Linked DNA regions of Homo sapiens: region 2 is reported to be linked to region 1. Evidence: microRNA targets listed by miRTarBase, many of them from high-throughput screens and not tested one by one. Region 1 holds a microRNA gene; the other region holds the end of a gene's coding sequence.

Evidence for each region. Region 1 holds the annotated microRNA hsa-miR-374b-5p (AUAUAAUACAACCUGCUAAGUG, at 3,445-3,466, shown strand). A microRNA usually pairs through its seed, bases 2 to 8, with sites in the 3' UTR of a target mRNA and lowers its output. Matches are read on the target gene's strand: a 7mer-m8 pairs with bases 2 to 8, a 7mer-A1 pairs with bases 2 to 7 and ends in A, and an 8mer does both.
Region 2: the mRNA of RHOU is a reported target of hsa-miR-374b-5p. Seed matches in the 3' UTR shown: 7mer-m8 at 867-873, 7mer-A1 at 1,083-1,089, 7mer-m8 at 1,921-1,927 and 7mer-A1 at 3,389-3,395.

Annotation. Positions count from the first base shown.
Region 1 is chrX:74,216,979-74,222,052 of GRCh38, reverse strand. It overlaps MIR374B (microRNA 374b), which reads left to right and starts at 3,435; the gene lies at 3,435-3,506. All of the region lies in intron 5 of FTX (FTX transcript, XIST regulator), which reads left to right. MIR421 (microRNA 421) reads left to right here and starts at 3,592; the gene lies at 3,592-3,676. It overlaps MIR374C (microRNA 374c), which reads right to left and starts at 3,504; the gene lies at 3,435-3,504.
Region 2 is chr1:228,742,989-228,748,056 of GRCh38, forward strand. It overlaps RHOU (ras homolog family member U), which reads left to right. Exons shown (of 3, transcript NM_021205.6): 3 at 297-3,676. The coding sequence ends at 752. Among named protein-coding and RNA genes, the nearest start is that of RHOU, 10 kb to the left of the region's middle.

The sequences.
Region 1 (5,074 bases):
AGTGGCATTTTAGCAAACATGAATGAAAGGCACCAAAGGTTTAAGGGGGAATTTAAAACATTAGGTAGCAGCTTGTAGAGGATATATTTAGGGTCATGATGTCCTTCTTGTTGGCCTTAAAAACACTTCCTGCGCCAGGTTCAAGGGTCAATTGGGAACAGGATCAACAGAGGATGAGGGTTTTTTTTTGTTTGTTTTTGTATCATTTTAAGACAAGGTCTCACTCTGTTGCTCAGGCTGGAGTGCGGTGGTACAATCCCAGCTCACTGCAGCCTCCGCCTCCCTGAGCTCAGATGATCCTTCCACCTCTGCCTCCTGGGTAGCTGGGACTGCAGGCACATGTCACCATGCCTGGCTAATTTTTGTATTTTTCGTAGAGATGGGGTTTTGCCATGTTGTCCAGGCTGGTCTTAAACTCCTGGGCTCAAGTGATCTGCCCACCTCAGCCACCGAAAGTGCTGGGATTATAGGTGTCAACCGCCACACCCAACCAAATGAGTTATAAGTTTGTGATCTGTTTTTAGCCTTTGTCCACAACTGTGGGAGTCACCATTCACTCTGTGACATAGGCTCTCAGAATGATGGCTCTCTTGACTGTGGCACTGATCATAGATTTAGAAGCTCCAGTATGGGAGGACCTTAAAAGTCTCCTATCCCAAATAGATTATTTTAAACTAACCCCAGTTCAAGTCCCTGGATAACATACCCAACAAATGGTCTTTTAACTTCTGAGTAAGTTTACTTGGTAACTGGGGACTCCTCCTTGAGTTAGCTTGTCCCTTCTTTTGAGACCTCTTTACAACATTGAGCCCCAAAATGTTTTTCTATAGCTTCAATTCATTCAGCATATTTGTATTGTACCACTACTCAAGAACATTGCTTTATTCTCACTCCTGCATATTCAGCATCTCTCCTCTCTGCTGTCATTTGAGCTGCCAGGCACTGTGCTGGGTAGTGGGGATATGGAGATGAATTAGACACCATCCCCGTCCTCAAGGAGTTCTCAGTCTAGTGAGAGAGATCAACATCTATGTACACATATAATTACAACAATATGGTATGCTCTACAATGGAGGTATGTATAAGATACTCTGGAGTTCAAAGAGAAATCATTTTACAGAGTCTGGAGATGACAGAGCTCAGAGTACCTGGTATATGAGTTGAGTCTTTAAAGAAGTAAAGTCACCTTTTGACTAGGTGAAAAACAGGGAAAGGCTTTCCAAGCAAAAGCATGGACATTGGAAGTAGTATGATGAGTTTGGGGAACTACAAATAGTTCTCTAAATTAGGTTGGAAATGTAGGCCAGGAATAGAACTTTATATGGTATGCCATGGGATTTGGATTTCATTATAAGTGTTTTCAGAAAGGGATGCTTTTAGATGATCACTGGCAGTAGTGTGGGGTGTGTTCAGGAATGTTTTCAAATCTGGACAGGGAGATGAGTTAGAAGGATACTGTGGTGGCTAAGATGAGAAATGATGTAGGGCTGAAAGGAGTGGGAGTGGCGAAGAGGGGATAACCTCTTAGGAAGTTATAAAAATTTAGTCATGCATTGCTTAGCAATGGGGATATGTTCTGAGAAGTGTATTGTTAGGCGATTTTGTCATGTGAACTTCATAGAGTATATTAACACAAACCTCTCTAAATGGTATAGCCTATTACACACCTAGGCTACAAACCTGTACAGCATATGACTGTACTGAATACTGTAGGCAATTATAACAGAATGGTAAGTATTTGTGTACCTAAACATATATAAACATAGAAAAGCTACAGTAAAAATATGATATGATTTTGTGGTGGGACAACTGTGGGACAACTGTCATATATGAGGTTCATCATTGTCCTAAACATTGTTAGGCAGCACATGACTGTATAGACATAATAGAACTTATAGGAAAAGTTATAGAAAAACTTATAGAAAAAGACCTTGATGAAAAATACTGTCATATTCTTTGGATGAATGTTGCAATTAACTCCTTTTAGATCATAACTTGACTGTACAGATTGTGCAAGATTGTTTTCTGGGAACAGCTGTATATGAAATGTTGATTCTCAGGGAGACACCTAGACACCTGAATTGCAGCAGACATTTTATGGTGTTGCTAAGTTGCTGGTCCTTCTCATCAGTAGCAGGCCTACTCTCACTGTCACATATCTCCCACGGTTTTTTTTTTTTTTTTTTTTTTTTTTTTTGTAATTAACCAAAAGTGAAGGCTTTTATATCAAAGACTCAATTGAGGAAGCAGTGGCCTTAGTCATTATTGGCATAATTGCTTTAGTTTGCTTATGGATCTTAAAACGTTTATGACTATATCTGCAAGTAAAAAAAAAATTCAATAATTAAAAACCTAAACATATCGAGTGTTTATTTTCTCTTTTTGCAAAGGTATATTCTAAACTCAATGTTCTTCGGGAAATTTTCCAATTAAGGCTCTGAGTATTGATATTTGGGATTTAGAGAATGGCTTTCTATGACCAGAATGGTTAGTGATGAGATTTTATGTAAGTAGGACTGGGTTTTTCAGGGGGCCTTGTGTAACTTGCCATCAAGAGTTGGGAAAGGAGGCCCTGAGCAGTGCAGCAGAGCTATGTAAAGTGAGAGTTTGGGTCTTGGGACCAGGTAGCCTGGGCTCAAATCTGCTCTCACACTTAGCAATGTGGTCTTGAGCATGATTCTTCACTTCCCCAGGACTCTGTTTTCTCTTATGTAAAATAGGAATAATATTTATTTTCAATGATGGGGGTAAAAAGTACTTAAAGGGACTAATTATGTAAATTGCTTAGAACAGGCCTGGAATATACAGCTAAATGCTGTGTCAACTGTTGTTGCTGATAATGGTGTTGACTATGACAAGTATTAAAAGAAGAGATTTGACTAGAGGTACTTATATTTTGAATGATCAGTGACGATGTTAGGGTTGAGAAAGAAAAACAGTAACTGACTTGAAGGTTTTCAATGGTATGTAAGTGTGAGGTCATTTCACCTTTTATTTCTCTGCCAGGTAGAGTGGGAAACCAAATTAATCACTCCATGATCTAGTGACTAATCTATTGCCTTTGCTTTTAGTTCCAAATAGAAAGCTGTTGAAAAGTTGTTGTATTACACCTGCATAAAGGTTATCCTGAAAACAGAAAAATGCATTAGACTTTGTCAAAACTGGATTTGAAACCTAATTCAACTGCTTGCTGGCTGTGTGACTTAAACTTGTTGAACTTCAGTTTCTTCCTCTAATATAACTATTAATTTTCAGAGTTTCCATGAAGATATTTGTAAAGTGTTTGTCATAGGCACTCTATACATTAATTACAGCTATTATTGTTAGATCTTGGGACACCCAGCACGTGACAAAAACAACAGCAGACCCTGGTGCCTGGGAGGACTTCATGGATCCAGCAGCAACCTGGAGTGGTGCTCCTCTGAAGAAATCCTACTCGGATGGATATAATACAACCTGCTAAGTGTCCTAGCACTTAGCAGGTTGTATTATCATTGTCCGTGTCTATGGCTCTCGTCTACCAGACTTTAAATTCCTTAAGGGCAAGGACAGTGCCTTACTCATCTTTGTATTCACAGTGCCTAATCCGGTGCACATTGTAGGCCTCATTAAATGTTTGTTGAATGAAAAAATGAATCATCAACAGACATTAATTGGGCGCCTGCTCTGTGATCTCCATGGGCTCAGCTTGTCCCCGCCAGTTGCCAACAACGTCCAAGCTCTCTTCAGAATGCTTACTCCTGAAGCTTATTCCTGTCTTCTAATTCTTTTGTTGAGGACTTTTCTGTGTAGTGCAATGATAGCAAATACACTTCATCTCAAGTACCATCTCCAATTGATTGATAATGCCTGCCCTGATTATGTTTTATAACAAGATTCTGAAACCAGGTCTTATCTCAGTGTGAAAGACATTTATAACTATTTAGTGATGTCTGCTGAGGGTCGGAGAAGGGGGAGTAGCAGCACAAGTGCCTCATATGTCATATTTGCTACTCTGTTTTCTATGAAATACTTCATTTCTATGCCTGCATTTTGGTCTTAGCTACTTGCTGATGTTGCATGGCTGTTGCTGCTACTGTAATTGCTGCTAATTGCTCCCTGGGTTGGACCAGAGTGCTCATTGTCTGAACAGAAACCTCATCCTCACAGTCTGAGGTTTGCTCCTGTGGCTGATATTTAAAGTTTTCCCCTTTCAACTTTACTCCAGCTATCCCCTTACCTGCACTGACAGGTAATCCTCCACCGTCCTGTTCACCTCTCACCAGGTTCATATTTTCTTTATCTTATTTATTGTACTTAATCATTATTTTGTGAGAAGCTTTTCTGATTGTAGATGTGACAACCAGAATACAAGTTAAAACCACTTATCCAGCGCCTTACAGTGAATCATTTAACATGAGAAAAAAATTGAGTGTGTTTGCAGACCATGGGGCAGAAGGAATTGAGAAGGGAGTCATTGTAGATGTGAGAAAGAGAGAGATGATAATAGATGGAAGATGATCTTGAAAGATGATGCAGGTGAAGCTGGAAGGGTGAAATTTATGGCTCTAGAACACATGCAGGTGGAGGGTTAGCCTTAGGTAAGTGGAACTACCTCTTTGCTGGAGCACAGAGATAGGGATAGGAGTAAGGAAGAGGACTTGGCAAGGGTGGTGAAGATTTGTAATTGTAGAGGTGGATGATGGGGAGGAAGCTGACCAGGAACAGGAATATGAAGACAAAAGCTGCTGGAACAGAAATACTAGAGGGCTAAATATGAACCAGAGTCCCTAAGGAATATTCAGGCCAAAACGCTGGAGTGAGACCATTAACAGGAGAGCTTATGGTATATCAAAGTAAGAAATGAGTTTGAAACTGGGTTAGAAGCTCAGGAAAATATGAAGTGGTTTTGGGGCATTGTCACTAGCAGTATTTGGTTGCCTTGATTGATTGAGGGGTGGACAGCTAGCAAGAGACGAGTTACACAGAAATGGATTTAAGAATCCAAACTAAGGCCGGGCGCGGTGGCCCACACCTGTAATCACAGCACTTTGGAAGGCCAAGGTGGGCAGGTCACCTGAGGTCAGGAGTTCGA
Region 2 (5,068 bases), not on the chromosome of region 1:
GCACTTTTTCTATGTTAAGCTGTAAGTAGGTCTTGAGTGTCGATGAACACGTTGAACATGTTTGGCAGTGTTCAGACCATAGCTGGCCCTGAAAGCAGATGGCTGCCACACCTTCGCTGGTGCACTGGCCCCGCTTGGGTAAACAGTAGGATCGTTTCAAGGATGCTGGCTCTTCCTTCTAGAACCAGCGGGTCTTCTATCACCTGCCAGACCCTTTCATGAAAAATGTGAAGGTGATCTTTTTACTGATGAGAATTCATGAAAACATAACTTTTGGGTACTTTGCTTGGTTGCAGGATGAATTTGACAAGCTGAGGCCTCTCTGCTACACCAACACAGACATCTTCCTGCTCTGCTTCAGTGTCGTGAGCCCCTCATCCTTCCAGAACGTCAGTGAGAAATGGGTGCCGGAGATTCGATGCCACTGTCCCAAAGCCCCCATCATCCTAGTTGGAACGCAGTCGGATCTCAGAGAAGATGTCAAAGTCCTCATTGAGTTGGACAAATGCAAAGAAAAGCCAGTGCCTGAAGAGGCGGCTAAGCTGTGCGCCGAGGAAATCAAAGCCGCCTCCTACATCGAGTGTTCAGCCTTGACTCAAAAAAACCTCAAAGAGGTCTTTGATGCAGCCATCGTCGCTGGCATTCAATACTCGGACACTCAGCAACAGCCAAAGAAGTCTAAAAGCAGGACTCCAGATAAAATGAAAAACCTCTCCAAGTCCTGGTGGAAGAAGTACTGCTGTTTCGTATGATGCTGGCAAGACACCCAGAAAGGCTATTTTCAGATGAAATCGATATTAGAAGCTATATTAGCTGAAACAACTCCTTTTACTGCGTAGAACCTATATCGAGAGTGTGTGTATATGTATTATAGGAGGAGCTCTCAATTTTATGTATTCTTTCTGCCTTTAATTTTCTTGTTTGTTTGAGCTTAGGGATGAGATACTTATGCAAGATATTTTTGAAGTAAATTAAACATTTTTCACATCTCTGGAAATTTAGAGTTCTAGACCTCTGGTTAATTTATATCTAATATGAAGAAGACACCTCTAATCTGGATGTTAAGAATGAAGTTCTGCTACATTATAATGTACAGAAGAGCAAAAGGGAGGAACACTATGGTTAACCCTCTCTTGATTAAGGGCTACTTAATGCACAGTGCATTATGTACACAGGTCAACCATGGTAACAATAGTTCTTAGCTTTGAAACTCCATGCAAACCATGCCTTTTTTTTAAGGAGCAAAAATCTGAGAAAAAAAGTGAGAGACCTCTGCCTACAAAACCTCAAACCAGTCACTTTTGTCAATTGCTAATACCCAGTTACTTATGATTTAAAAACAACCAACAGAAAACATCCCACTGACTGTATGGCACTCTGTAGTCAAAAAAGGAAACTTCCTTATTGGGACTTTTCTTTCTTAGTCCAGTTGTGTTGACACATATGAACACAGACAAAGTGCTATGCGGAGGAAAGCAAGTGTTGGTCAGTAGTTTCATGTTTTAGGGAGTGGTTCCTGTGGAGATCAGAAAGTGACATTTGCTTTCGGTACTGTAATACGTGCACCAAACTGCCTCAATCCTAGGTAACGAGGGCAACAGGGAGCACCTGTCTGGATTGTTTTTAAACCTCCATACTCAAGCTGTCTCTTCGGCAGGGAGGTGAATACTCTTGAAAGGCCAACAGCAAGTGTTTGTGGGACACAACACAGATAATTTTTTCTTAAGTCGGCCAAGATGTACTTCTCTGTGTGCACACCCATGCACACTCATGCACACAGATACATAGGTCTGTATGGCTGTATTTGCTGTTGATTCAGACTTTCACACCATTAATGGGGAAAAGCGTGGCCACAAAAACAGATGCTAGGAAGCTTGGCTTCCTCTTCTTGTTGACCCTTTTTTGAACCAACATCTTTTTTATTATATTCAGAGTATGTTTTTAAGTGTATCTTAATATATACATTTTTTAGGACATCTTAAATCTAAACAAAAAATAAAATGAACATCTCTTGAAACCTGTTAAAACAACCAGTTAAAGCCACAGATGGCTTTCAGGGCAGTAGCAGCAGAGGCCAGTGGACTCTGAGGACTCCTGAGGGGCGGGGCGTGTAGCCAGCCAGGTGCATGCCGGGACCATGGCCCCCATACTTGGCTGCTTCCTGTGACAGTGAAATACATCCTTCAAGGTGGCAGCTGTTAGGGCTGAATCTTCTGGAGAAAAAGGTGCCATCTCAGGAGAATAGCTTTTACTCTGGTAGGAATGCTTCCGAGACACCACAAGGCAGCCTGAACACTCAGTTGCAGGGTCGGGCTTGCGGTGGGTGACCCAGAGCCACCAAAGTCACATCCACAACTAATGAGGGAAATCTGTAAAGCCAGTTAGATAGAAGAATTTTATTTTTCTGTGGGTTTTGTGTTGTCTTTTTTATGTTAAAAAGAAATCCAGTTTGTGTTTTTCTATAGAAAAAGTAAAAGATCAGGTTATACTTTAGGTTAGGGGTTCTATTTATTCCTGTTAGTAAATAAAATTAACAAATTTCTTTGTTTAACAAAAGATTAATCTTTAAACCACTAAAATACATAGACTGATTGATTATTCAACACATTGGAATTGATGTCGGTCATAGTTTCCTGAAGCATTTAGTTACAACCTGAAGGAATAAAATGATTTGTGGAAATGCTTAAAATAGACCTAACTGAATACAGTCTCATCTTGCCGCGCCTGGCTTACCTATCTGTGGAAAGCTAGGCTTCCCAGGCTGGGCTCTGCCTGTCTGGTGCCTGGAGGTGTGGGAGGGAAGATGAGTTATTTAACTGGTAAGCGATTTGAAACACTATTTTTATATTAAAGTAAATGGCATGGAGTATAGTGCAAATTCATTTTTAAGATAGAACACAAAACTTGAAAGAAGTTTTATGCGTGTGACAGTGTATGGGGCTGCAGTTGGTCTCCCTGGAGGGGACTTCCACACCTCCTGCCTTTAGGCCATGGGTGGAAAGTGCTCAGTGAAGTACACCTGTGTGGCCCAGTTCTGAAAGCTTTATACAGTTGAATTTTAAGTGGGGTTGATAACACCTTGGACTGTTAGTGTTAAAAATCTAGTGGGTTGACCTTTAAATGCAACAGTTTTTAAAATATATTGCTGCATTTTATAGAATAGTAAAGGTACGATTATACTTGAGATTTTCCTCCATTTTTATTTCTTCGTGAACATAGAGTTTGGGGCCGAAAATGTTTTTAAAGTATGTGTTTGAGTTAAATATAAAGTTGGTTCACTTCAAAGCTAAAAAATTGTTAAACTTGCAGCTTGGTATTGCAGAGAAGATTTTATAAGAATTTTGCTTTAGAGAATGCCACTTTGGCTGAACTACAAGTGTAGGCCACCATTATAATTTATAAATACAGCATACTTCAAAACTGTTTGTTATCTCTTGTTACCATGTATGTATAAATGGACCTTTTATAACCTTGTTCTCTGCTTGACAGACTCAAGAGAAACTACCCAGGTATTACACAAGCCAAAATGGGAGCAAGGCCTTCTCTCCAGACTATCGTAACCTGGTGCCTTACCAAGTTGTGCTTTTCTGTTTTCAAGTGTAAATGATGTTGAGCAGAATGTTGTACTTGAAAATGCTATAAGTGAGATGGTATGAAATAAATTCTGACTTATGAATATAATGGCTCTTGCCTTTTCTATCTGAGAATTTTGTTGGAGGTGTTTAGCCACATCTTGAAGCAGCACTAGTTGGGAAGCATCGTGGCTTACCCTGAGAGGTGTTTTGGGAATGCATCTCCAACCAATTTGAAGTGCTTATTCATTCAGCATGGGGTTTTCTGAATTCTGGAGCCACAGTCTGACAATAAGCACCCGCCGACTACATGTTCCTCACAGACTGTGTGCTGATGTCCCAGTGTGTTGGAGGGAGCACTGTTCTTGGAGCCAAAAGTCTGGGCTCAGAGAAGCACTAGTGTGAGATGAAGCTGAGACAGCCAGCGATCTGAGCCTTGGTTTCCTCATCTGGAAACAGTACTGCCTTTCTCATCAGGCTATCTGAATCCTGAACATGCAGAGGAGACATCCAAGATCTGTAAATCACCATGAAAGAGGTTAGAGTCAAAGGCACCATGAGCCCTTACCAGCTGTAGAGCTGAGGACCAGGGTTCCCAGGTCCTGAGGGTGCGGAGAGGTGCTGTTGTGTTCTGTGTGATTTCTTCAGGTTCTTGAAGTCAGTCGGTTTTCCCATCATGCCGTGAGGATGCAGCCCTTTTACTGAGGGCTCCGGGAAATGGGACCCTGGGGAGACGACTATTCTGAGGGGCTGGAAGTCTTCTTGCTTTCACCCTCCAGCCTCAAGGTCATCCTGTGAAGGATGGAGCCATCCACTTTGCTCCACATGGCACTGCATAGGCCATGATATAATTTTTATGAGTACCCACCAGATGTTCAGCCACAATGAATGGGAAGACTGCATGGCATGCAAGTGAAACTACTGTACCACCTAATTCCACACATGACTGGGGAGTGCCAAAAGCACCCCAGGCACTGGTTTCCCGGCCTCCACAGGGCAGCTGACCCCAGCCCAGAGGGACTCAAAGGTTTCTCCACACCCAGTCCCAGTCTGTCTCCCGTGTCCTGGCTGGGCCTTCCTGGGACACATGGAAAGCGCATCCAGCCACTGTAGGAGAGGTGACCATGTGATTCACTGAGACATTTATGGATTCAAAGGGAGGGAAGGAATGAGAAGCATCTGGGAGAAAAGTGTTCTAAAAAGAAAGAAGGTTCAAAGGCCCCAAGGCAGAAGGGCATCTGGTATGTCCCAGAGGCCAGTCTGAACAAGATAAAAGGAGTGCAGAGAGAGATAGGGAGATGATGTCAGGATGGTGATAATGGGAGGTGATGGTGGCAACCAGGGACATGGGGAGGAGTCAGGCTGCTTGGGCTTGAATTCTGGCTCTGCCACTTACTGGTTCTGATTCCTTAAGCTACTTAACCTTTTAAGCCTTCTGAGTCCAAACAACTTTCTAACCTCCCAGGTGGATAAGCATGGCACCTACCCAATCAGCT